Homo sapiens: one gene and its partners. The protein of the gene in region 7 interacts with the protein of the main gene of each other region in a pairwise test. Each region holds a gene or a part of one and is shown on either strand. Other genes may lie near its edges. The genes, in order: RETREG3, SCN3B, SLC30A8, CISD2, CREB3L3, ZCCHC12 and RUSF1.

Region 1 (3,500 bases), on a different chromosome or scaffold from region 7:
TTGAACTCCTGACTTCAGGTGATCCACCCACCATAGCCTCCCTAAAGTGCTGGAATTACAGGTGTGAGCCACCACACCCAGCCTGCCTGTTCTCTTTAAAAAGAGACCCAGAGCTAGGTGTAGTGATGCTCACTTATAGTTCTGCCTCCTTGGGGGGCTGAGGCAGGAGGATCACTTGAGCCCAGGAGTTCAAGTCCATCCTGGGAAACACAGTGAGACCCTGTCTCTAACCAAAAAAAAAAAAAAATGGGGAGACCCATTATCTACCTGAATGATGTATAAGTCTTTTGAGATTCACCAGCCATTAGATAGGCAGATGAACTACACGATTCCTTGAAGTCTCTATAAAATATGATGGGCATGTATTTAAAACCTGTATACTCTGGTTTGAATATCTTGCCAACACTTCAAAATTAACCTGCCTAAAATCTACATCAGTTTTCCTCTCTCACCCCTTCAAACCAACTTTCCTGTCTGCCTTTGCCTGCTAAGTGTAATGCCATTCTGCCACTCTCTTAGCTTTAACCCCCATCCACTTATGTCTTTTATTATACATATATAACAATTATTATTTTCTGAGACAGGTGTCGCCCTGTTGTCTTGGCTGGAGTACAGTGGTGCGATCACGGCTCACTGCAGCCTCAACCTCCAGGGCTCAAGGGATCTTCCCACTTCAGCCTCCCAAGTAGCTGGGGACCACAGGTGCACACCACCATGCCTGGGTAATTTTTTTATTTTTTGTAGAGACAAGGTTTCGCCACGTTGTCCAGGCCGGTCTCAAATTCCTTGGCTCAAGCAATTCTCCTGCCTTGGCCTCCCAAAGTGCTGAGATCACAGGCATGATCCACTGCACCTGGCCCCAACTATTTATGTCTTGATCTTCCTTATTCACAGCTCTCCAGGCCATCCATCATTTGTATTCACTGAGGCCTCTCTGACTACTTCTCACAAAGACACTGCCACAGTCTCCTAACAGGTCATCCTGTTCCACTTTTCCTCCTTCCATGTGGTCCTAAAAATGCTACTAAATTAATCTTTATTATCGGCTGGGCGTGGTGGCCCACGCAGGTAATCCCAGCACTTTGGAAGGCCAAGGCACGCGGATCACTTGAGGTCAGGAGTTCAAGACCAGCCTGGCCAACATGGCGAAACCCCATTTCTACTAAAAATACCAAAAAAATTAGCTGGGCGTAGTGGTGCACGCCTGTCGTCCCAGCTACTCAGGAGACTGAGGCAGGAGAATCATCTGAACCTGGGAGGTGGAGGTTGCAGCGAGCCAAGATCGCGCCACTGCACTCCAGCCTGAGCAACAAAGTGAGATTCTGTCTCAAAAAAAATTTTTTTTACTTAGCTGGGTGTGGTGGTATGCACCTGTAGTCCCAGCTAATTGGGAGACTGAGGTGGGAGGATCACTTAAGCCCAGGGATTTGAGGTTGCAGTGAGCTATGATCATGCCACTGTACTCCAAAACCTGGACAACACAGTGAGACCTAGTTTGTTAAAAAATAAGAATAGGGCTGGGCGCGGTGACTCACGTCTGTAATCCCAGTACTTTGGAAGGCTGAGGCGGGCAGATCATCTGAGGTTGGGAGTTCAAGACCAGCCTGACCAACATGGAGAAACCCCATCTATAGAAAAAATACAAAAATTAGCTGGACATGGTGGCAAGTGCCTATAGTCCCAGCTGCTCAGGTGGCTAAGGTGGGAGAATTGCTGGAGCCCGGAAGGTTGAGGCCACAGTGAGCCATGATTGCGCCACTGCACTCCAGCCTGGGTGACAGACCAAGACTCTGTCTGAAAAAAAAGAATGCGCCAGGTGCGGTGCCTCACGCCTGTAATCCCAGCACTTTGGGAGGCCTAGGCGGGTGGATCACCTGAGGTCAGAAGTTCGAGACCAGCCTGGCCAACATGGTAAAACCCCGTCTCTAACAAAAATACAAAAATTAGCCAGGCATGGTGGTGCGTGCCTGTAATCCCAGCTACTAGCAGGGCTGAAGCAGGAGGATCACTTGAACCTGGGAGGCGGAGGTTGCAGTGAGCCAAGATCATGCCACTGCAGTCCAGCCTGGCCAACAGAGTGAGACTCCGTCTCAAAAGAAAAGAAAAGAAAAGAAACCAACAAAAAACCTAATCCCAACATACTTTCAGTTTTATTTCCTAGCACTCCCTTTAATGAACCTTCATCCTGGCCATATGATCAATTCTCTGATGTCAGGAAATGCTTTGCAACTTCTGGTTCCTCAGACTAATCAAGCCACTGGACTCTCTAGAAACAGACTTTTTTCTCAATCTGTTCAAATCTTTTGCTTTGTTCCACTCTCAGGCTAGGGAAAAAATACATGCTAAGTATACTAATCACATACTGCACTGTGACATCTGTGGTGCTGGTCTATAATTGTCACTTAATTTTTCATTTGTTTATGTATGTATTAGCTTTTTAAAAAGACACCACATGTCATGGTACTTTCTTTTTTTTTTTTTTTGAGACTGAGTTTTGCTCTTGTCACCGAGGCTGGAGTGCAGTGGCACGATCTCGGCTCACTGCAACCTCCGCCTCCCAGGTTCAAGTGATTCTCCTGCCTCAGCCTCCTTAGTGGCTGAGATTACAGGTATGCATCACCATGCCCAGCTAATTTTTTGTATTTTTATTAGACGGGGTTTCATCATGTTGGCCAGGCTGGGCTCGAACTCCTGACCTCAGGTGATCCACCCGCCTCGGACTCCCAAAGTGCAGGGGTTACTAATAGGCGTTAGCCACTGCGCCCGGCCATCATGGTACTTTCTATAAGTCACAATTGCCTAGCCTAGTGTTTTGCAAATGAGCAATGTAAAAGGAATTCCTGAGAGGTACTGCCTCAATAAAGATGCAGTGTCCAATAACGATAATTTATTATTTTTCATTTGAGGACTACTTATTCCTCAGGCCATTATGTTGGCAAAAATAACTCAGGTGGTGAGTACAGATTTCCTGTGCTTAGTAACAATGGGAAGGGCAGAACCCAGCTCTAAGGAACCATAATTGGGGCACAAGCCCTTCAAGTGCCTCCTAAAGCAAATGATTCAGACTTCAAAAGACAGTCCCCAGCTCCATACACCTCCTCATAAACCCCTAATACTAAAGGTACAAATTATAGGAAAGGCCATCTTCAGTTCAGATTGTTCTAAATGCTACCAAACTCACCTTTTATTTCAGGCCAGATTTTGTTCTTCCATTGATCAATACACACAATGATCATCAAGCCAAATGCAAGTAAAAACACAAGACGAAGAGATGTCAGGGCAAAAAACCTACAGAGGAAGAAAAACAGAAGAAAGATCATTTACCTAGTTATCCTAATTTCAGAAAAGGCCACGTGTGTACGATGGGCTCTGTGGTAAACAGACTTGAGGTCTAGCTTTTTTTGTTCTGACACTTAACTAGTTATACACCTAGGGTAAATCATTTAAACCTTCTGGACCTTAACTACTCTACCTATGGGGCAGAGAAAATAATTTGCTGC
Region 2 (3,500 bases), on a different chromosome or scaffold from region 7:
AATTTTGGTATTTTTAGTAGAGACAGAGTTTTGCCATGTTGGCCAGGCTGGTCTCAAACTCCTGACCTCAGGTGATCCACCCACCTCGGCCTCCCAAAGTGCTGGGATTCCAGGTGTGAGCCACCGTGCCTGGTCGGCTGTCATATATTTTGAATACCACCTTGGAGATGACCATTATTTACTCCTTCACTGACTGTGGAGCCAGGCCACCTGGGTTTGATTCTTGACTTCACACTTATTATCACCTCTGTGTCCTTGGACATGTTGGTCATCCTTTCTGTGCCTCGGTTTCCTCATTTTTAAAGTGGGGATATAAAGCATAGCCAAATTATAGGGCTGTTACCAGGACTCATGAGCTATAATTTTTAATGCATTAAAAATAGTTTCTGGAATATAGTAAGCACTGGTAAATGTTTGCTAGAGAAAAGATAGACACAGAAATGAGGAAACTGAGGCTCAAAGAAGTTAAGTTAATAACTAAGACAGCTTTGACTTGAGCCAGGTGGTCTAACAGCAGATACAAGGCCCTTTTTACGGCACTGCTTTGCCTTCCTGGGGGCAAGTTTCTCCTCCACAAAGATTTGTAACAGAGACAATGGAAGGGCGAAACTGGGTTTAGCTTGCTCTTCTTTCTCACTATCCTAAAGCCGAACCCATTTCTAACTCTAGCTTCTATGTGCCATTCTGATGCAGATTTGCAACCGTCTGGTACTAAGACTGGGACCAGCGGAGACTTCCCAGAGCCTGGCTCAGGTGTGACAGTGACACGTCAATGAAGCTGCAACTGAGGCTAGCCCCCAGCTGCAGGAGGCTGGATGTCTTGGCCAGATGCAAAGGCCCCCAGGGCCTTCAGGCCTGGTCATGTACCAGTGATAGCTGCCCACATTGCTTCCAGGCCTGCCCAAAGTGAGGAAAAGGTGGATCAGAAGAAGAAGAAAATGAAAAATAAAACGGCAACAGCAAAACATCCATGGAAATCCACAGCAAGGCTGTCTCATAGAAATGTTTGTGATGGTGGAAACCTTCTCTATCTGTGCTGTGCGATACAGTGGCCACCAGCCACATGTGGCTATGAATAATTGAAATGTGGCCAGTGCCACTGAGGAACTGAATTTTACATTGTATTTAACTTCTAAGAAATTGAATTTAAGTAGCTACATGTGGCTAGTGGAGACTAGAATAGCCAGCACAGCTGTAGAGAGAGAATGGCACATAGAAGCTAGAGTCAGAAATGAGTTTGGCTGTTATGTCAGAGGGTGGAAGTGTTGAGGAAAGAAATTTAAAAGATGATATTTTAGTTAAAATTCAGTCCAAAGCAAAAGATGTGACGTGTGCCTCTCTGGTGATGGCTCTCTGCTCATCTGCCATGCTTCAGCATCCTGGGCCTCCTTCCTGTGGCCTGGCCCAGACTGTCCTACAGCCCCTGATGAGTACCAGCACAGAGAGTCCAGTTTTAAAGCCAGGGCTTTCATATGTCTTCATTACTAATGAATCTGCCTGTCTTGCTGTCTCTACCTTGTTCTCTTGCCAGCGGCTCTGGGACACATCTTACTCTCTTGTTCTCTCTATCTTTTTACAATCCTGTCTTTCTCTCAATGTCCGTCTCCTGGGCTCCCATACTCTTCTCCCGCCTGCCTTTGTTCTCCCTCTTTCCACCCCTTTTTTTCTGCCAAGCTTCTTCCTACACGCCCGTGGCTGCCTCTGTCCTCACCACGTCCACATGCCCTGATGCCTGCTGCCTCTGCCTGTCCTTCCCTGTCTTTGCTCCCTTCCCTACCCTCCTCTGTGCCTCTTCATCCCACCCCCACATTCTGGGTCTCCCGGTGGCATTGTCCCCTCTCTTCCCTGTCCATGCACAATTCTGCTCCTTTTCTCTGCCCTGTCCCTAACTCGGCTTCCCCCCACTGCCATCTCCTTTCCTGGCCCTACCCTCTTCTGCTCCTCTATCTGCAGATTTACGAGTATCGGAATGGCCACCAGGAGGTGGAGAGCCCCTTTCAGGGGCGCCTGCAGTGGAATGGCAGCAAGGACCTGCAGGACGTGTCCATCACTGTGCTCAACGTCACTCTGAACGACTCTGGCCTCTACACCTGCAATGTGTCCCGGGAGTTTGAGTTTGAGGCGCATCGGCCCTTTGTGAAGACGACGCGGCTGATCCCCCTAAGAGTCACCGAGGAGGGTGAGGCTGAGGCACAGGGTCTCTAGGGCGTCCTGCTCTCTGTGGACAGGGAAGGGTAGGACAGCAGTTTTCCACGAGTGAGGCCCTTAAAGAGTGCAAAAACCCATGTATTTGGAATGGTGACATCTAAAAATGTCACCATTGACCCATCTTCTTCTGGTGGCCAGCTTCCTGTAAATTCCCTAAGCAGCTTGTCTTTCTGTGCCTTTCCTCAAAGCAGAAAGGCTTGGAGATGATAGAATGAGCTCTTCCTGGTCCCTTAGAGAAAGAGGCTAGCCTCCATGAGGCCTAAAGCTACTGATTCAGCTAGGCCTTCTTCTTTGGCCTATGTTGAATCCCTGACTCAGTGGGCTCAGAGAAATCTCATGAGGTTACCCGGAAGTCATCTCTCCTTCTACCTGTAAGCAATACATGCCTCTAAGCCAGGGGTTCTCAAACTTTAGCAAACCTCAAAATCTCCTGCAGGGCTTTTTGGAAGCCAGCCTTTCTGCTTTTGTCGGTGGAGCCTGAGAGTTTGCACTGCGTGACACACTGCCTGGCGGGCAGTGCTGCTGCTGGGACCACACCTTGAGAACCTCTCTCTAAACCAAAGTTTGACAATCTTTTTTTCTTTTGTCTTTCTTCACAGTAATCACACGTGCAACCTCTTCCCCATCTGTGGCATCTCTTATTACATAAATTCATTCCCTGCTGGGAGAAGGGGACAGGTTGATAGCTCTCTAGTCTTGTTTAAAATCTTTGGACTCCTACAGCTAGTTCCGTGTTCGTGAGTGGGAAGGCCTTTCAGCAGCCTAACTCAGGTGTTTCTGTTGCAACCGGAGTCCTGCATCCTGAGGGGGGAGTTCCAGCCTTTCTCAGTCTATCTCCAGCATTATCACTGCTAGTGAGCAGGCCAAAGTGTGGGGCATGAAGGAAAAGATCAAGTTAAAGACAGGGCTCTTCCTAGAAAAAAGGATCCAGGAATCCCAACCTCCAGGCCACAGGTTTATTCATTTTTTATCATGTCGTTGTGATAAAAATAATGAAGCGGAGATTCAGTCCTCAGAGTGAATGAACAAAGGAGAAAGAGACATAACGGATCAGACGATATGACTAAAATGGAAGGTAGGTCAATTCTGAAAGTGCAGAGGGACTCTCAGGGCTCCTGAATCCAGACCTGATGAGTCACTTCCCTGCTCGGAGCCCCGCTCCTCTGGTGTGAAATGAAGGGGTTGGCGGGGGGCTCTCTGAGGTACTCCCCTGTTCTGAAGTTCCTTTATCCCCCGTTTGTTACACGCCTTTCCTCTGGGGGGTGGGGCCCTGGCGCCCTCTCCTGGTCACC
Region 3 (4,220 bases), on a different chromosome or scaffold from region 7:
GCATCTTGAGAACACATAGGTAAATTTGAACTCAGGAAAGTCTTACTAGAAATCAGTGGAAGGGACAAATAGTCACAAAATTTTACCAAAACATTAGAAACAAAAAATAAGGAGAGCCAAGTCAGGAATAAAAGTGACTCTGTATGCTAACGCCACATTAGAACTTGGTTCTCTCACCAAGCTGTAATGTGATTTTTTTTTCTACTCTGAATTGGAAATATGTATGAATATACAGAGAAGTGCTTACAACTAATTTTTATTTACTTGTCACATTTTGGCAATAAATCCCTCTTATTTCTAAATTCTAACTTGTTTATTTCAAAACTTTATATAATCACTGTTCAAAAGGAAATATTTTCACCTACCAGAGTGCTTAAACACTGGCACCAGCCAAAGAATGTGGTTGTAGAGACCCAGAAGTCTTCAAGAACAGCCGACAAAAACATTCGAGTTGACCCCACCAAGTTGTTGCCACAGATAATTTAGATATTTACCTGCAAGAAGGAATAAAGCAGATGCAACCAATTCATTCAGTCCACGAGCATGATGTGAGCACTGCTTTGTGCTAGACATTGGGCTTAGCATTGAAACTATAAAGAGGAATCAGACGCAGCAAGTGCTTCTGTGTTCTGGTAGCAACTCAACACTATCTGTGGAGAGTAAACTGAAGATGTGCAGGCCAACATTCTGGAAATCCTATGTCAATGGGTTTGGTTTGGAACCTGGACTTCTGCATTTTTAAAAGTTACCCAGAGATGCTTCTAAAGATGAGCCATAGTCTAGAAGATTGTCAACCACAGGAGTTCATTGAGTGGGACAGCTAGACACATACATTGGCAGCTACAATAGTATCATGAATTGCAATGATGTAGTGGGGTATAAAAGGAAAGCGATGGATATTGCCGGATGGGCATGGCCAGTGATGTTTCACGTCATTGAGGTGACAGCTCTGCTGGACTTTGAATTACATATGGAGGCTCTCCAGGAAGACGAAGAAGAGAAGGACATTCTAGGCAAAAAGAAGACTAGGCACAAGGCACACTTATGTTTGTCTGTTAGCTTTTAGTTGAAAAAGCAAAATACATGATGCAAAGAAACCTCTCCACGCTGTGATTTTTAAAACTACATACTTTTTGCAACTTTATGGTTATGAGTATTGTAGAGAACAGGAGATAGGTCTTAGATGATTTTTATGTTGTTGTCAGACTCTAGCAAGGTACTAGAAACCTAGCAGGCATTAATAATTGTTGAGGCAATGACTCTGAGGCTATATCTGGGCCTTGTCATTATTTATCATTTATATTTGTATTTTTTTCTGAAATTTGAGGGCCAAGAAAACATTGACTTTGACTGAGGAGGTCACATCTGTGCCATCTCTGCAAATCAATCAGCACCACTGAAATAACTACTTAGCATTCTGCTGAGCTTTCCCTGCTCAGTAGAGACAAATATACTCATCCCCCACCTCAGTGAGCTTGTTTAGGCAACCAGGATTAGAGCTGCTCAGGTTCCCAACGTCTCCTGCCACATCGGGTTCTCAAAATGGAAAGAATGGTTTATGCCAAATCACTTTTCCTGTCTGAAGGACCACTGAATGGTTTTGTTTTTCCATATTTTGCATAGGACGCCCTAAAGACTAGGTGACTTGGCAAACACACAAGTGTTAGTATAATTCTTTGCTTCTGCTTCTTTTTGAAAATCATGTTTAGATTTGATTTTAAGTCAGAAATTCACTGAATGTCAGGTAATCATTATGGAGGGAGATTTGTGTGTCAACCAAAGTAATTGTCCCATGGCCCCAGGGTATTTCTGTTGTTTCCCTGAAATTCTGCTTTTTTAGTCAGCTAGATTGAAAACTCTGAACAGTAGATGTTTATATGGCAAAATGCAAGACAATCTACAAGGGAGATTTTAAGGATTTTGAGATGAAAAAACAGATGCTACTCAGGGGCTTTATGAACCATCCATCAATTCTGAAGTTCTGACTCTCCCATTACCCTTTCCCTGGTGTGGTCAGAACTCCAGGTCACTGGAAGTTAGTGGAATCATGTAGTTGAATTCTTTACTTCAAGACATTGTATTCTCTCCAGCTATCAAAACATTAATGATCTTTTATGTCTTTTTTTTGTTATTGTTATACTTTAAGTTCTGGGGTACATGTGCGGAACATGTAGGTTTGTTACATAGGTATACATGTGCCATGGTGGTTTGCTGCACTCATCAACCTGTCATCTACATTCTTTTATGTCTGTCTTTCAAAGCAACACTCTGTTCTTCTGAGTAGTGAAATCAGGTCAACTTTACCACCAGCCTCCATTTTTAATATGCTTCACCATCATCCAGCACCTACTTAAGATTTATCTAGGGCTCTGTGGTGATGTTAGGACCCATAAAAGAAATTTATGCCTTCCATATGTTTGGTTACAGATGGGAAATGGGAATGTTGAAGGACATGAAAGAAAGGATGTTTACACATTAAGCATCAGTTCTGAAGCTAGATTGTCTGAGTTTGAATCTTAGCTCTTCCCTTTATTAGCTCTGTGACCTCGAGCTAGTTACTTAAATGCTCTGATCCTCTATTTCCTGATCAGTGAAACCTCCCTATTCAAATGTGTGAGAGTTTAATAAATTAGGACACTTAAAAATGTTGGAGCAGTGCATAGCATGTAGTGTTCAGTACATGTTAAATGTTGTTTTTTATTATGTACAAACATGAGTGGGCACAGAATTTTAAATCATCTCAACTTTTGAGAAATTTTGAGTTATCAACACCGTTCCCACAAGACAGTGGCAAAATTATTGGTGAGAATTAAACAGCTGTTTCTCAGAGGAAGCAATGGAGGCTTGCTGGGATAAAGGCATTTACTGAGAGGCTGTTACCTAGTGAGAGTGATGAATTAATTAAAATAGTCGAATCCCTTTCTGACTGTCTCTGAAAGCTTCCGCTTTTATCTTTGAAGAGCAGAATTGTCACTCCAAGGACATTTATTAATAAAAAGAACAACTGTCCAGTGCAATGAAGGCAAAGTCATAGGTCTCCCAAGTCTTACCCCATTCCTGTGAAATATCAAGTTCTTGGCTTTTCTCTGTCATGTAGCCTCAACTTTCTCTGACCGGGTGCATTTCTTTCTCTGGTTTCTAAATTGCCAGTGGCAAATTTGGATCACTTACTTAATATCTGTTAAATTTTGTGACCCAACAAAGTCTTTTAGCACTGTGGTGTCAAAAAGAAAAACACCTCCCAGGCATATACATTTTATAGATTCCTGGAGAATGTTGCTCTCCAGCTCCATCCCCACCCAATGAAATATGATCCAGAGAGTCTTGCAAAGAGACAAGCCTCATTTTCCACAATTAGCTCTAAAGTGCCTCCAGGAAATGATTTTCTCAGCTCATCTCTCTGTATTCCCTGTTTTGGATCACAGGGCAATCTGTTTAAATGACTAATTACAGAAATCATTAAAGGCACCAAGCAAATGTCATCTCTGAATACACACATCCCAAGCTTTACAAATCCTGCCTGGCTTGACAGTGATGAGGCCACTTAACAGTCCAGCGCAGGCGGATGTTAAAAAAAATAAAAAGGTGACCATCTGCGGTTTAGTTTTTTAACTTTCTGATTTCACACTTAACGTCTGTCATTCTGTTACTGGGCACCTGTTTAAATTCTATTTTAAAATGTTAATGTGTGTTGTTTAAAATAAAATCAAGAAAGAGAGAGTTTGGGTTAAGTCATCATCTTTTTATCACCAAAATCATGGCAGGACATGTTTTTCATGACACCAGTGAGGACTGTAATGAGAATACACTCTTTCACTCTCAGTCATTTATTGGAAGAGATATAACTCATTTGGGGAACATACTTGTCTAAGAGAGATGGAAGATAATGTGTTAGAATCAGGGGTGCTTTTGAAATCATTCTGGTCATGGGCATAAAACCCCAGTGGAGGAAGAAGATGGTGGTCAGAGGTGGTAGGAGCCCTTGACGGTTGTAAAAAAGGAACTTGTGCTTCTTCAACCATAAAGCCAGGAAGTGATGAGAGATGTCAAGCTGAATTGCACCCCTTTCAGAAGTGTCAATCAAGTCCTGGAGACAATGTATCATTATAATTGCCCTATATTTCCTTTCTTCAAAGGGGTACCCATTTGTTAAAAACACGATTATCCTATTTACAGCCATTAAAACCCTATGGTTGTTATACACAGTCCAATAGTACTAT
Region 4 (3,500 bases), on a different chromosome or scaffold from region 7:
AGATTTTGTCAACTACTTATAGTACTTATCACTCCAAACTCCTTCCCACATTAAAAATCATCTATAATTGAGGCTATCATTTACTACCTCATATTATTAAAGCAGTTTACATATATCATCTCACTTCTCAAAGATATGTAATGTGGATGTATCAGGTTAAAACAAACCCTGAAGATTAGAGATTAAAAATTAAGTAACTTGTCCAACCAAACTCATACTGTGACAAGTATATTTGACCACTATTTACTATGACACCAAAGCTTTTTTCCATTAAACCTTAGGTCCTCTCTCAAAGAATGTGTATTTTAAAATACATGTTACTCTACATAAATGCCAAACATTGCGAAGGCATTAGATTTTTATTCTTCTTTGCTGCTCCAACTTTTCTAATGTAGGTAGTATCTATCATGACATGAAAACTTCAATTTAGGAATATGGTCTTTCAATACCAAATATTACAGAAAATTCTCTCATCTTAAAGAACTTCAAAACTGGGGATTTAAGAGGCGAAACAATCCTAGCACTGCAAAATTTTAGTGTACACGTAAACAGACATCTTACCGTTTTAGAACGCCAACACCTACAATAAGCTGCTTTAGTAAGACACAAATCTTCAATGTTTATTTCATTCACTACTTTCGGATTTTCCTTTTGTATTTTAAGATTAATCAAGCTATCCTTCTGTTGTTTCTTCTTCGGGAGGAATGGACGAACTGCAAGGTAGCCAAGAAGTGCGAGTACACCAAGGAAAGGCAATAACCGAAGCCATTCTGAAACTAAACATGTAGATGTGTCAGAATCTGCAGTGCTCTTGGAAAAGAATTCAAAATAGCATGTCTAGTTTCATCCTTGAGCTTATTCTTTGTTACTTTTTACATTAATTCCTTTTTAATGGATCCATAAAACTGTGAATAAATAACACAATAAAGCCAGCTCTACCAAAGACCACCTTACTTTATTTATAATTTGAGACCAGTGAAACTAGAAACCTAACTTTTCAGAAATAGGTTCCATTTCAAATATCCTATCTCATTGTCTACATCAAGTCTATTTGTGTTTGTCTATTTTTATTTTAGGAGTTATGATCACTATAACTATAAACAAAATTCAATGTATATTTTATAAGTTAAGAAAACATTTTATCTCCTTAATACTATGTCAAAATCATACAACAGAATATCTGCAGAATTTTTACCACTGATTCATAATATCAGAGAGAACATGTCCTCTGATGCTTTAAGGTACATTTTTGGTAAATGTTGCTAAAGAACACTGAAATTTTGTGTAAAAGCTACTATTTTAAAGAACAAATTGAAACCTTCTATGTTGAATGTTCTCATTTTAAGATATATCTAATTCCATAAACTTCATTTAAAGCCTTTTGGAGTACCTAGCCTGTCTTAAGGGGACAGGGAATATAAGTGATACAAATGAAACAGTCCCTATGCATGTGGACACAAAAATACCAGGAAACCAAGATAAACATTTCAACATACATTTATCAAATGTCTGCTAGCACCCTGCCTCTGCTGGGCTCTTTTCTGTTCTTATAGAATTACCAGTTAACTTCCTTCACTGAATGCCGAATCTGATACCTTGCTAGGCACTATGTGGAAATAGCTTAGTTGAGAAAAGAGAAAAACAGAAAATAATATGCTAACTCATGCTAATAAACATTAAAGATAAATGAACAGGTTATGCTAAGAGTATAAGGGCACTAGCTCATTTAACACTATGTTAGCTTAAACAACTATATGTGGTAGGTATCATTATTATCCCCATTTTACATGTGAGAAAACTGTAGCCTAAGCAGGTTTAGTCCAGGACACCCTAAATCCAAAGCCTGTTGTCAGTTATCATGAATCAAACCCAATAGATCTAAAATTAAAATCTGTGCCTATCTTGGTAAAACTACTCTCAGGAGATAATAGTACTATTTAACTATTGAAAGAAAGACAATATGAACTCTTCCAAAATGGAATTATTTTTGATATAACATCATGCCAAAGAAATCTAAATGAAAAAACCTATTTATCTACCATTTTCATAGATAGCACCTATAAGAGTGGCTGGCAAAAAAGACACAATAAATGGTAGCTTTTATTCAGAGATTATAGAGATTGGTGAGGAAGTACTAGCAACTCCTTTGAAAAAAATATTTTGCCAAATAACTTGACAATGCTATATGGGCAAAAATCTTCAGGAATATAATCTTGTAGTTACCAGAATAAAACTCTGTAAAAGTATGAACTTTGTCTGCCATGCTGGCTGTTACATTCTCATAACCAAAGTGGAGACACTCCAAATAGGTTCTTTGAGTGAATTAAAGCTCTGGAGATAACACAGAACTGTTTTTGCGGGGAGAAGGAGGCCTAGGTATAAGATCTGTGCTATTCAATATGGGCACCACTAGCCATACTGTTTAGATTTGTACCCAACAGACTTGTAGAAACTGTCTTGAAATAACAGTTTATTACTTATAGTTCCCAAGAGGAGAGGATACACTATGCAATGCAGGGCCACATGAGAGGTACTAGGGTTGATCAGGAGGAAGAAAGAGGAAAGGGAAAAAGCATGGGCACAGGCCTTTACTGTGGTTTCCATGGAAAAGGCAAGGCAGGAAACTGTTCAGGACTGGCTAGCTTGAATAATTTCAGTGGGTTCTGGGCAAAAGTAGTGGTCCCTAGTCGTCTCCTACCTGTCCCTGGGGTGACTTAGGGCAGGAGAAATATTGACTGGAGAAATACTGACTTCATGTGTAAGGGTTAGATAAAGGAGGTGGTTGGGGGCATGGGCTTTGGATTGGTTGGTTTGCATATGAAAGGCATGCTCACAGGCAAGTTATTTAGTATCTCTAGGAATTAAATTGTCTCCACAGCCAACAAGGCTCCTAAGATATTAAAGCATAATAAAATACAGAAAATTGAAAACACGGTTAATATACACATGTGGGCGTGGTGGCTCATGCCTATAATCCCAACACTTTGGGAGGCTGAGGAGGGCAGATCACGAGGTTAGGAGTTCAAGACCAGCCTGGCCAACATGGCGAAACCCCGTCTCTAATAAAAATACAAAAAATTATCCAGGCGTGGTGGCAGGCGCCTGTAATTCCAGCTACCTGGGAGGCTGAGGCAGGAGAATCGCTTGAATTCAGGAGGCAGGGGTTGCAGTGAGCCGAGATCATGCCATTGCACTCCAGCCTGGGTGACAAGAGCAAGACTCTGTCTCAAAAACAAAACAAAACAAAACAAACACATGTGGCTATTCACATGTAAATAAATTAAAATTAAGTAAAATGTAAAATGCTGTTTCTAAGACACACTGGTAACCTTTCAGAGGCTCAATAGCTAGCTACATGTGACTACTGACTACCATATTGAACAGTACAGAGAACATTTCCATTACCACAAAGTTTTACTGGACAATGCTACTATAGATCATTGGCTCTATAAGGTGCCATCTCCAAAGAATGGCAAGGCTACCTTTCCAGCTTCAACTTC
Region 5 (3,500 bases), on a different chromosome or scaffold from region 7:
AGCTGGGACTACAGATGCCCGCCACCACGCCCAGCTACTTTTTGTATTTTTAGAAGAAATGGGGTTTCATCATGTTGGCCAGGCGGATCTCGAACTCCTGACCTCAAGTGATTCGCCCTCCTCGGCCTCCCAAAGTGCTGGGATTACAGGCAGGAGCCACTGCACCTGGCACTGGCTGGGATTTTTATGCTATGTTACTGCGTTTGAGCCTCAGCAGCCCCGGGAGGAAGAAGCAGTAACTCATCTTGGAGAAGGGAAGGACACCTAAGGCCCAAAGAGGGTCACTGGTTTCCCTGGGGCCACACACTAATCTAAAAAGAGTGAGCACTTCCTAATTCCTACTACCCCTCCCTGTCCACCCCAGCAGGTCCTGCCAAACCCCGACTCTGACGACTTCCTCAGCTCCATCCTGGGCTCTGGAGACTCACTGCCCAGCTCCCCACTCTGGTCCCCCGAAGGCAGTGATAGTGGCATCTCCGAAGACCTCCCCTCCGACCCCCAGGACACCCCTCCACGCAGCGGACCAGCCACCTCCCCCGCCGGCTGCCATCCTGCCCAGCCTGGCAAGGGGCCCTGCCTCTCCTATCATCCTGGCAACTCTTGCTCCACCACAACCCCAGGGCCAGTGATCCAAGTACCTGAAGCCTCTGTGACCATAGACCTGGGTGAGTCCTGCTGTGTCTCTGCCCACCGCCCTCACCTTGTTCCAGGGCCCTTCCTGTAAGTGAGGAAATGGAGGCCCAGAGAGGGCTGGCATCTTGTCCAAGGTCACACAGCAATTTGGAGCTGGGCCCAGACTCAAACTCAGGACACGTGTCTCCCTTGGCTAGGTGTTTCCATGCTTTCACGTGGATGCTATTGGGAGCCCATTTTCCAGATCGTGAAACAGTCCTGTCAGGTTGAGCAATGAGCTAAAACCACAGAGCTAGGATGCAACCCCGGCAGGTGGCTCAGGCACCAGGCATGGTGCTGACAAGCACAGCCCAAAGTCAGGGTCTTGCCTTCTACGTGTCTGTACCCCGTGCCTGGTTCCTAGTAGATTTTTTTTTATTTTTTATTTATTTTTATTTTTTGAGACAGAGTTTCACTCTGTCACCCAGGCTGGAGTAAAGTGGCGCGATCTCGGCTCACTGCAACCTCTGCCTTCCAGGTTCAAGCAATTCACCTGCCTCAGCCTCCTGAGTAGCTGGGATCACAAGCATATGCCACCATGCCCAGCTAATATTTATTTTTTAGTAGAGACGAGGTTTCACCATGTTGGCCAGGCTGGTCTTGAACTCCTGAGCTCAGGTGATCTGCCCACCTCAGCCTCCCAAAGTGCTGAGATTACAGGTGTGAGCCGCTCCACCCAGCCTGTAGATGCTCAATAAAAGTGCATGAGGTTACCAGGTCCTAGGTTCCAGGGTGCTCCTCCTAGACGTGGGGAACAGCAGATCAGTAATGATTTACTCTATTGATTAAGCATTCCCGGCGGGCCAGGCAGAGCCCTGGCTGGAGATACTTGGCCTCTGGGTGGCCTTTGTCCCTTGACCCTTGCTATGAGCTCTTCTTGGTCCCATTGGAGAGTTGACAAAACTGAGGCTCAGGCCCGGAGCGGTGACTCATGCCTGTAATCCCAGCACTTTGGGAGGCTGAGGCAGGCGGATCACTTGAGGTTAGGACTTCAAGACCAGCCTGGCCAACATGGTGAAACCCCATCTCTACTAAAAATACAAAATTAGCCGGGCATGGTGGGGGCCACCTGTAGTCCCAGCTACTCAGGAGCCTGAGGCAGGAGAATCACCTGAACCCGGGAGGCGGAGGTTGCAGTGAGCTGAGATCATGCCACTGCACTCCATCCTGGCTGACAGAGCCAGACTCTGTCTCGAAAAAAAGCCAAAAACAAAAAATGCTGGGCACAGTGGTTCACGCCTGTAATCCCAGCACTTTGGGAGGCCGAAGCGAGCGGATCACGAGGTCAAGAGATCGAGACCATCCTGGCCAACATGGTGAAACCTCTGTCTCTACTAAAAATACAAAAATTAGCTGGGTGTGGTGGCAGGCGCCTGTAGTCTCAGCTACTCGGGAGGCTAAGGCAGGAGAATCTCTTGAACCTGGGAGGTGGAGGTTGCGGTGAGCCAAGATTGCCACACTGCTCTCCAGCCTGGCGACAGAGCGAGACTCCGTCTCAAAAAAAAAAAAAAAAAAAAATCTGAGGCTCAGAGAGGTGAAGTCACTTACTCAAGGTCACACAGCCCTGCCCAACCAGGATTAGAACCAAGGGTTACCTGACCCAAAGTTTGTGTGCTGGGACAGCATGCCTACTGCATGCCGGCTACCAGGAGGGGACAACCAGAGGTGAATCAGACCTCGTCCCTGCCCCTTGGGTGAGATAACGCCTGGCTGGCTGCAAATCTAGCCTGTAATTCTGTGTGATAACAGCCACTCCCTTTTGAATCAGCCGGTGTCTCCTGACAATGTCCTGTGTCTTCCTCAGCCTTGTGGGACGGACAGAACCAAGCCCTGTTGAATTTGGGTCCCCATCTTTTTTTTTTTTTTGAGATGGAGTCTCGCTGTGTCACCCAGGCTGGAGGGCAGTGCCACATTCTCAGCTCACTGTAACGTCCACCACCCGGGTTCAAGTGATTCTCCTGCCTCAGCCTCCCGAGCAGCTGGGATTACAGGTGCACGCCACCAGGCCCGGCTAATTTTTGTATTTTTAATAGAGATGGGATTTCACCATGTTGGCCAGGCTGGTCTTGAACTCCTAACCTCAGATGATCCGCCTGCCTTGGCCTCCCAAAGTGCTGGGAATACAGGCGTGAGCCACCATGACTGGCTGGGTTCCCATCTTATAGCAGAGGGGAGACCGAGTCACTAGTGAGGGCTGCCCCCTTCAACTCAGGCCTTGGGGACTCCAAACTCTGGCAGAAGTCATATGAATGTTGGGATTAATCATGGGAGACTTGGTGGAGGAGGCGGTTAGAGGCTGGAAGCTCAGGACTCCCCCCGTCTGACACTCTCCCTGTCTCCGTCCCCACCTGCCCTGGTCAGAAATGTGGAGCCCAGGAGGAAGGATCTGTGCTGAGAAGCCGGCTGATCCGGTGGACCTGTCCCCACGATGCAATCTCACCGTGAAAGACCTCCTCCTTTCGGGCAGCAGTGGGGACCTGGTGAGCACCCCCACACCCTCCCATGGGGCGTTGGAGCTGGGAGGGCTGCTCGGGTTCGAGGAGCCTAAATATCCCCGTTTCAGAGACTGGAAAACTGAGTCACAGAAAGGCGTGGAATTTGCCCACAGTTAGAGACCATTCCAGTCCTGGGCTCACTGTCGCCTGGGCTGGGGTGTCTTCCTCTGTAGTACTTAGTAGTAACAATAGCAACAACAACTAAAAGCTAAAACTGGCTGAGTGTGGTGGTTCACACCTGTAATCCCAGCACTTTGGGAGGCCAAGGCAGGCAGATCGCTTGAGCTCAGGAGTTTGAGACCAGCCTGGGCAACATGGTGAAACCCCATCTAT
Region 6 (4,201 bases), on a different chromosome or scaffold from region 7:
TCTCCCTCCAATGTGCTGGTATCCAAGACCCTTTCTACTCCACCCCAAAAGATAGCCGCTTTGTGGATTAATTCATGCAGTTAGAAGTCCCACCCCCACCCCCACCCCAGTTTTCCCACTACTGGATGCTGAATATAGGTAAGGGTTCACTGAAACCTGGGGGTGGTCCCTTACAGTGGCTCAGAGAAGTCATTGTATTCGCCAGGGGCCACTCTTGACCTCTCCATCTCAGTATGGGTCAGCTCCTGGAGAGTGATGATCAAATTCTCAAAAACCTGGGCCTTGTCACTCTCGTTGTCACAGGTTTCTTTTGAGTGGCCTTCCTCACCACAATACGAACAGCGGATTGTGTGTTTTCGCTTCCTGGCTCTACGCATCTCCCCAGGACCGTTATTCTTATAGCCAGAACCACCACTGGTGGAAGGAAACTGAGCCCTGGAATTGTGGGGGGAATCAATGACCAGCACTTCATCCTGAGGTCTGGCCCTGTCTCTGAGGGGAGGGGCACCCCAGGATGGAAGTGGAGGGTCCTGAGACTCCACCAGGATCACATCCTCATCGGAGTCGTCGAGGGTATCATCTATCTCTATCACATTGCAGTCAGCACTGCCGATCACTATCGGTGGGGAGCCCTGAAATGCCACAGGGCTGACTGCCCTCTCCACCATTGACTCAGACCTTTTTGGACGCTTCCGTTTAATAAAAGCATCATCCCAATCCTCTTCCTCCCTTACCATTCTGATTAACTCCAGAAAGTTGGGAAGCCGCTCCTGCTCATTTGCATACATCCTGAGAAAATCCTTAAGTCTGAGTCGGAGGTCCCTACTCAGCTCACCGCCTAAAAGGAGCTGCTGCAAGCGAGTCCGGTTTGCATCTTTCTCAGCTATAATGCCTGCCTGAATAGCGTTCTGGAGCTGCACCTCTAAACGGATCACATAAAGGGAGGCTTTCTCCCCTTGAGCTTGTAGGGTGTTAAAAAATTTACCATGGGCAGTCACACTGCTTTCAGACTCCCCAAACACCAATTTCATGGCTCGCAAGAAATCTGCCACACTTAGGTTAGGGTTGGTCGCCTGAAGCACACGCATGACCTCGCGGGCAGGGCCCCTAAGGGTTTTCATCAAGCGCTTGAGCTTTTCCTCCTCAGACATATTCCAATCTGGCAGGACGCCATTGACTTGGGTCAGCCAGTTTTCAAAGGTTTCTTCCCCTTGGGCTGGCACCACCCTCCCCGAGAACAACTTCATGTTTCTGTCTGCCATGCTGGCCATTATAGGACCGAGACTTCTCCCCAGGGACCTCAGCATGGAATGGGCCCAAGGCGGCAAGGGTGCATTCAGCCGCCGGCTGTTACCGACACGTGCAATGATGCTAGCCATGACTGACGACGATAGGGTATCTGAATATAAGAAGATGCCTAGGCTTTTTAGAAAAGCTTAATCTGCAGGTGGGAGAGGAGAGGAGGTGGCTCTGCCTTCCTATCTCAGCAGGGGCTGTAAAAAAGAAAGGGGGGCTGGTTAATAAGGGAGCGGGCTGCAGCTGCATTCTCTTCCTACCTGAATATCCTGCAGTACATTTTATATTTGCCCACTACCCTAAAAATAATCCTGTAGGAGATTGACACTTACAACCTCCCAGAGCTACCCGATGCCTGCGTGCTAGCAAGGTGCTTTTTGCAGCCACATCCATCCCTCCCACCAGTCCTCCAAGAGGGACGGTAACTGTTGCTTCAAATTCTAGGTGTAGCAGTGTCTGGAGCTGATATTGGGCTCTCCAAATAGAGTACAATGATCGCAGATTTGTGGAAATAAAATAAGATCTCATTAACCTCATGGTCTCTGGTCTCAACCACACCCCCTTCTCAAAGTGCCCCCCACGCCCGTCCCCCTTGTTATTTCTCAGATTCTTACACGAACTCTGAAACAAGAGCGCGTCTTTATTTCACTTCCAGCCTCTGCAACCAGTGCCCTCCGTGAGAAAGCTCCTCTCCGGGGTACGGTCAACCTCTGTCCACAGGGGGTCGCAGATCCGGGTCCTTGAGGTTTCAAGATTGCGCCACAGCGGAGAAGGCCAGAGAAGGGAAGGGTTAGAAGCAGCTTCACCCGTCATCCTGCTACCCACCACCTCCGCTGTTGCCAGGCGAAAAATTCTCTCTGCCCCCTCCTGACTATAAGCCAGAGACCAGCCCCCCACCCTCCAGCATTACATTTCCCCCGGGAAGCCGTCGGCCTACCAGCTCTGCAATCAGCTGCACAGAATTCAAGTTCAGATGCGGCTTTGATGGCCTGCCACGGAGAAAGGGAATAGGAGTTGGACACACCCACCCACATATTCCTCCCAGAAAGAGATGAGGAGATGCAAAGGATGTTCGAAGCAAACAGCTCGAGATTCCTCCCCCCGCTACTCCTCGCCTCTCCTCCCACCCCCAAATCCAGGCAAATCCTACCTAGCCCGCAGTATCCAGGTGAACCCCACCTCCTCCCTCAGCGCAGCCGGGCCACGAGAGTACTCCTACCCCTGCCTCACAGTCACCGATTCTCCAAGCTGGGAGCCGCCCAGTACTGGTGGGTCTTCCCCCACCCCTCTCCCCGCCGGGCAATCACACCCCCATTCTTTACCTGTGCTCCGCTGGTGGACAGCAGATGCTCCCGCGTCGCCAGCTGTGGATTCCGCCTTCTGGTCTCCGCCTTGCAGGCGGCAAAGAACTGAAGCCTCCTTGGCCGCTAAGCGACCCGGGGCTGCCCGAAGGAGCTGCTTCGCAGGGCCGCCCAACCAGGGGTAGCAGAGACGAGGCAGCGCCGTTCCTAAGGCAGCCGCGGCGGCTTTTATCCTCTGCCAGCTGAGACAAAAGAGCGTGACGAGCGGGCTAGTGCGGCCAATCAGCGAAGTGCGGGGGCGGACGCCCCGCACAGCCTTGGGCAGAGGCGAGTTTTCGCCTGAGGGGGCGGGGGCGCAGCAGGCCCGCGGAGCGTCAAGTGCAGCTTGATTAGACCGATGGAGCCAATCTGCCTGGGAATTTGCGACTCTTTCTTCCTCCCCCAACCCGTCCCTTCTCCCTGGGCTCAACTCTGCATCTTAGGCCAGGTGCATTAAACACGAAGTGGGTCCAAAATCAAGTGAATAATAAAAGTTCTTCACCTTGGTATAGGGAAAAGACGGGGAAGAGGGGAAGGGGCGGGAAGAGCATTAGCACGTGCATTGCGGAAACAGGCTTTCACACACATCTCCTCTTTTACTGTGAAAGAAGTAGCAGTATGTCCATTTAACAGAGAGGAGAGCTGGAGAACAAGGCTCTCAACCAATACCCATTCAAGTATGGGGGCAAGACATCAGAGTCATTTGGGGGAGCTTGTTAGAAATGCAGTCTTCTGGCCGGGAATGGTGGCTCACGCCTGAAATCCCAGCACTTTGGGAGGCCGAGGCGGGCGGCTCACGAGGTCAAGAGATCGAGACCATCCTGGCCAACATGTTGAAACCCCGTCTCTACTAAAAAGACAAAAAAAAAAAAAAAAATCAGCTGGGCATGATGGCGCGTGCCTGTAATCCCAGCTACTTGGGAGGCTGAGGCTAGAGAATCTCTCCAACCTGGGAGGCGGAGGTTGCAGTGAACCAAGATCGCACCGCTGCACTTCAGCCTGGCAAGGGAACAAGACTCCCTCTCAAAAAAAAAAAAAAAAAAAAAAAAAAAAAAAAAAAAAGGAAAAGAAAAGAAATGTAGGCTCTGGGCCCCAACTCTGGTGGATTCAGATTTACTAGGACTAGCGGTTGTGATGTGGTTTTGTATTTAGTATTTTTAACCGGCGCTGCGGTTGGTTCTGAGTTGTAGCAAGGTTTGTGAATAAGTAAATGAGCCTGTCTCCAATATCTGTCCACAGGTATCTGTGGTGAAATGCAACTCCAGAGCAGATGTGCCTACCTGGAATCCATGATCTTCCTGAAATTGTATGCAAAGATTTCGGACTCTGTATGAAGCTAAATAATGGCCACCCAAATGTATCAAGTCCTAATCCCTGAAACCTGTAAATGTTACCTTATAAAGTAAAATGGTCTTTGCAGGTGTGATTAAGTTAAGGCTTTTTGACTTAATTTTCCAGGCAGGCTGAAATCTAAACCACAAGTGCCCTTATAAAAGAGGGAGAGTTGGTGCACCAAGAAGAGAAGGCAATGACCAGAGATTAGTGATGTGGCCATAAGCAGAGGA
Region 7 (3,500 bases):
AAGCCTAAATGCTACGAGCACCCCTAAACAGGGTAGGAAACCCCAGAGAAAAGCATGGCTGTAGCTATGGACCGAGGGTTGTGCCATCTGGCTTTTGCTTCAAACTCTGCCTTTGAGACTTCAGTCTCTTCATCTGTCCAACAAGGGAATGGAACAGGGCCATGAGCTTCCCTCTTAAGACCCCTCTCTAGAGTTCCCCTCTCCACAACCTCCATCTCCAGCTGCACCAAGAGAAGCCAGCCTGGCTGTCATCTATGCTGCCGCCACCACCACTGCCACCACCTCCTCCTCTTCCCCCTTCCCCTTATCTGTCACCTTCGGCTGAACCTTCAGTTCTGTTATTTTTCCCTCCTCAAAATCTCCAGTCCATTCTCTCCTCCATCTTCCTGTCACCACCTCTCACTGCTGAGAGAGCACCGTTGCTTCCCAGGTAGCCTCCGTGCCGCTCCTCTCTCAGAGCAGCCCAGTGATCCTTTCAAAGAGGAAAGCAATCAGGTCACTCTGCTGCTCCATTGCTCTTAGGGAAAGACCTTCACCAGGCTTGCCAGGCTCCGTGTGGTCAGGTCCCTGCCAGCCACTTCGCCCTCACTTTGTCCCTCGTTCCTCTGGCCTTTGAACAGACTGTTTCCTCTGCCTGCGTATTAACTTGTTTATTTGTTTATTATCTGTTGATCTGTATGCTCCATGAGGGCAGGGCCTGGGTCTGACTTGTATCACAGCACCTAAGTCTATGTCTGGCATCTAAAAGAGCCCTCAGCCAGGGGCGGTGGCTCACGCCTGTAATCCCAGCACTTTGGGAGGTTGGCGTGGGAAGATCTCTTGAGCCCAGGAGTTCCAGGCCCGCCTGGGCAACACAGGGAGACTCTGTCTGTATTCAAAAACTAAGGATAAATAAAAATAGTAATAAGTAAAAGAGCTTTGATGAACTCGGGATGATTGTGAGTGACCAGTGACCCTCCTTGATTAGCTTTATCCTGCGATCTCAGAGGGAGAGATCTGGGTACCCTGGGAGGTCAGGGCCATCAGTGTAGGTTTCGACAGCTTTAACTGGGGCAGGAGGAGAGTAGAGGAATTACAGGAGGCAGATGTAAGCATGAAGCTGGAAACCAGCCTGAGCCTCCCGCCAGTAATGGGGAGGGTATAGCCCAAGCAGGAGCTGGAGGGCTGGGAGTTCTGGGCTGAGAATGATCTTTGGGCCTCCACCTTGGGGAATGAAATTGAGCTTCTGTGAGGCCAGTCCCCAAGGTGATAGTGGCAGGTGGGACTCCAGTTTCCTAGAACAGGACAGGGAAGTTGAGCCTAGGGGGCATCAAGGTGAGAACTAGATGCCAAGGACAGCATTCAGAGTTTGGCCGGGGCCAGGTTTTCTCCAGCTGGTCTGAGTGCCTGTGTTACCAGGACACGTGTCTCTGCCAACCTTCTCTCTTCCCCTCCCACCCAGTGCATCGTGAGTGTTGCTGGTGGGGCCACTCGGGCTGCCCTGACCGTGCACCAGGCTCGGAGGAACAACATGGCTGACGTGTCAGCCAAGGACAGCAGCCAGGTGAGTGCCAGAGCTGGAGGGAGGGCGTGGAGTGGGGAGGGGAAGGGGAGAGAAGCCACTTGAGTGCCCTGGAGGGCCCAGGAACACACAGGAAGAAGTATGGGTGCTCCCTGCTGACTCAAGACACCCAGGCAGGAGTAGGGGTTTGGGCTCTGGTGGCGGCAAGTCCGAGCTGATCTCAGGCCCTGCCCGCCACCTGTGTGGCTGAGAGCAAGCCCTCAGCCTTGCCCTCTTCAGACCCCACCGTGCAAGCTGGATGTTCTGATCACATGAGGCCCCACATGTCAAGGCAATTGGCAAGTCAGAGTTACCCAGCATGTGGGGTTGCTGGGTCACTGGCTGGGGCCTCCACTCAGCAGTTTAGCAGGCCTGCTGGCCCAGCCCCCTTGCCCACCCTAGGGAGCCTGGAGTTGGGGTAGGGACACCCCTAAGGCTGAACTCCGCATGGATTAGACCTCTACAAACCCCGTGCTGAGTGCTTACGTGTACTGCATCACTTAACTCTCACGCCTGTCATCCTAGCACTTTGGGAGGCTGAGGTGGGAGGATCACTTGAGGCCAGGAGTTTGAAACCAGCCTGGGCAACCCGGCGAGACCCCATCTCTACATAATATATAAAAGAAACTTCAGCTAGGTGTGGTGGTGCACACCTGTAGTCCCAGCCTCGAGCTCAGGAGGTGGAGGCTGTGGTGAGCTAAGATCACCCCACTGCACTCCAGCCCAGGTGACAGAGCAAGACCCTGTCTCAAAAACAAACAAACTCTCACACCAACCCTTTGAGGTAGGTACTACTTTATCCCTAGTTTACAGATGAGGAAATTAAGGCCCAGGGAAGTCCCAGAAGTGTGAGATGGTTTTCTTTGACACTGAAGCAATTTAGAAACTGCTGTTCTGTGCATTCCTACTTTCTGGCCTTCTCTTCCATTGTTTGGCTCAATAATCTTAACCCAAGCTAATATTTATTAAGCACTAACCATGTGCCAAGTATTTTGGTTCTGGGAACTCTTTAAATTCTCACAGTGGGCATGTGCAGTAAATGCTCATGGTTGCCTTAGTACAGATGAAGAAATAAAGCATGGAGAGGTCCCATCTCCCTGGGGGCCCCTGGGGAAGTCCCTTCTCTCAGGATGCTCGGGCTTATTCCACCCATTGTCTCTTCTGAACCTAAGTCCACAGGCTGTTAAGGAGCAAGCAGGAAGCACAGCACAGGTCCCTCACCGCAGGACTCCCAGCTCCATGCCTGGTGTCCCTCTCCTGTTCTCTCGCTGGTCCCCAGACCTCCCCCTAACCCCAAGCCATTTTTCCCAAGACCCCAGGGCTTCCTCGGTCCACAGAGCCAGGGACATATCCGGGACTAACCTGGGAATGTGTCAGTCCCGCAGCAGACTCCAGCTTTCTGCCAGTGCAGCTTTGCTGTCACTGGATGTGGCCACTGGAAATGACTCTTCCCACCTGGGAGAGAGGAGCTCCTGAACTCCCCAGGTCCCTGATCCCCAGTTTCCTGCCACACCCACAGCGTTTATTCCCACAGCATATGCCCTTCCCAGGAGGGCTGGTTGAGAAGAGCTCTCCAGTCTCGGGTCCTCTCTATGCCAGGACCAGCTCTCCCTGGGAGCCCAGTAGTCAGGGGCACCAATCCAGACTCCTCCCTCATGATGAGTTGGGGGCAGGTAGCCTGGGGTCCCTTCCCCTAGAGTGATCTCAATCCAGCCATCAGAGTGTTCTCCTAACATTGATACACAAGGGAAGAGGTGTGGGTCTTGTTCCTTTTCTTCCCGGGTGGTTCCTTGACCCCTTTGCAAATCTATCTGCCAGTTACTGCATACCAAAGGAGCTTGGTGGGAGGGGAGCAGTCAACTTTTTAAAATCAGTAAATAAAAGTTATTCCAGCTCATGCCTGTTATCCCAGCACTTTGGGAAGCTGAGGTGGGGATTGCTTGAGCCCAGGAGTTCAAGA

Evidence for each region.
Region 1: the proteins of RUSF1 (region 7) and RETREG3 interact in binary tests that used the Homo sapiens proteins (3 or more experiments, as listed by UniProt).
Region 2: the proteins of RUSF1 (region 7) and SCN3B interact in binary tests that used the Homo sapiens proteins (3 or more experiments, as listed by UniProt).
Region 3: the proteins of RUSF1 (region 7) and SLC30A8 interact in binary tests that used the Homo sapiens proteins (3 or more experiments, as listed by UniProt).
Region 4: the proteins of RUSF1 (region 7) and CISD2 interact in binary tests that used the Homo sapiens proteins (3 or more experiments, as listed by UniProt).
Region 5: the proteins of RUSF1 (region 7) and CREB3L3 interact in binary tests that used the Homo sapiens proteins (3 or more experiments, as listed by UniProt).
Region 6: the proteins of RUSF1 (region 7) and ZCCHC12 interact in binary tests that used the Homo sapiens proteins (3 or more experiments, as listed by UniProt).

The regions. Positions count from the first base shown.
Region 1 is NC_000017.11:42,588,875-42,592,374, forward strand, and holds part of RETREG3 (reticulophagy regulator 3), read right to left. Parts: intron 3,289-3,500; coding exon 3,182-3,288; intron 1-3,181. UniProt on the Homo sapiens protein: Endoplasmic reticulum (ER)-anchored autophagy regulator which exists in an inactive state under basal conditions but is activated following cellular stress.
Region 2 is NC_000011.10:123,641,125-123,644,624, reverse strand, and holds part of SCN3B (sodium channel regulatory subunit beta-3 precursor), read left to right. Parts: intron 1-1,953; coding exon 1,954-2,179; intron 2,180-3,150; exon of another isoform or gene 3,151-3,500. UniProt on the Homo sapiens protein: Regulatory subunit of multiple voltage-gated sodium (Nav) channels directly mediating the depolarization of excitable membranes.
Region 3 is NC_000008.11:117,172,995-117,177,214, forward strand, and holds the end of SLC30A8 (proton-coupled zinc antiporter SLC30A8), read left to right. Parts: 3' UTR 1-3,720; downstream 3,721-4,220. UniProt on the Homo sapiens protein: Proton-coupled zinc ion antiporter mediating the entry of zinc into the lumen of pancreatic beta cell secretory granules, thereby regulating insulin secretion.
Region 4 is NC_000004.12:102,882,492-102,885,991, reverse strand, and holds part of CISD2 (CDGSH iron-sulfur domain-containing protein 2), read right to left. Parts: intron 944-3,500; exon of another isoform or gene 777-943; coding exon 562-776; intron 1-561. UniProt on the Homo sapiens protein: Regulator of autophagy that contributes to antagonize BECN1-mediated cellular autophagy at the endoplasmic reticulum.
Region 5 is NC_000019.10:4,156,631-4,160,130, forward strand, and holds part of CREB3L3 (cyclic AMP-responsive element-binding protein 3-like protein 3), read left to right. Parts: intron 1-364; coding exon 365-665; intron 666-3,033; coding exon 3,034-3,152; intron 3,153-3,500. UniProt on the Homo sapiens protein: Transcription factor that may act during endoplasmic reticulum stress by activating unfolded protein response target genes. Activated in response to cAMP stimulation. In vitro, binds to the cAMP response element (CRE) and box-B element.
Region 6 is NC_000023.11:118,822,423-118,826,623, reverse strand, and holds the start of ZCCHC12 (zinc finger CCHC domain-containing protein 12), read right to left. Parts: upstream 2,801-4,201; 5' UTR 2,619-2,800; intron 2,286-2,618; 5' UTR 2,234-2,285; intron 2,036-2,233; 5' UTR 1,911-2,035; intron 1,494-1,910; 5' UTR 1,380-1,493; coding exon 171-1,379; 3' UTR 1-170. UniProt on the Homo sapiens protein: Transcriptional coactivator in the bone morphogenetic protein (BMP)-signaling pathway. It positively modulates BMP signaling by interacting with SMAD1 and associating with CBP in the transcription complex.
Region 7 is NC_000016.10:31,494,892-31,498,391, reverse strand, and holds part of RUSF1 (RUS family member 1), read left to right. Parts: intron 1-1,441; coding exon 1,442-1,543; intron 1,544-3,500.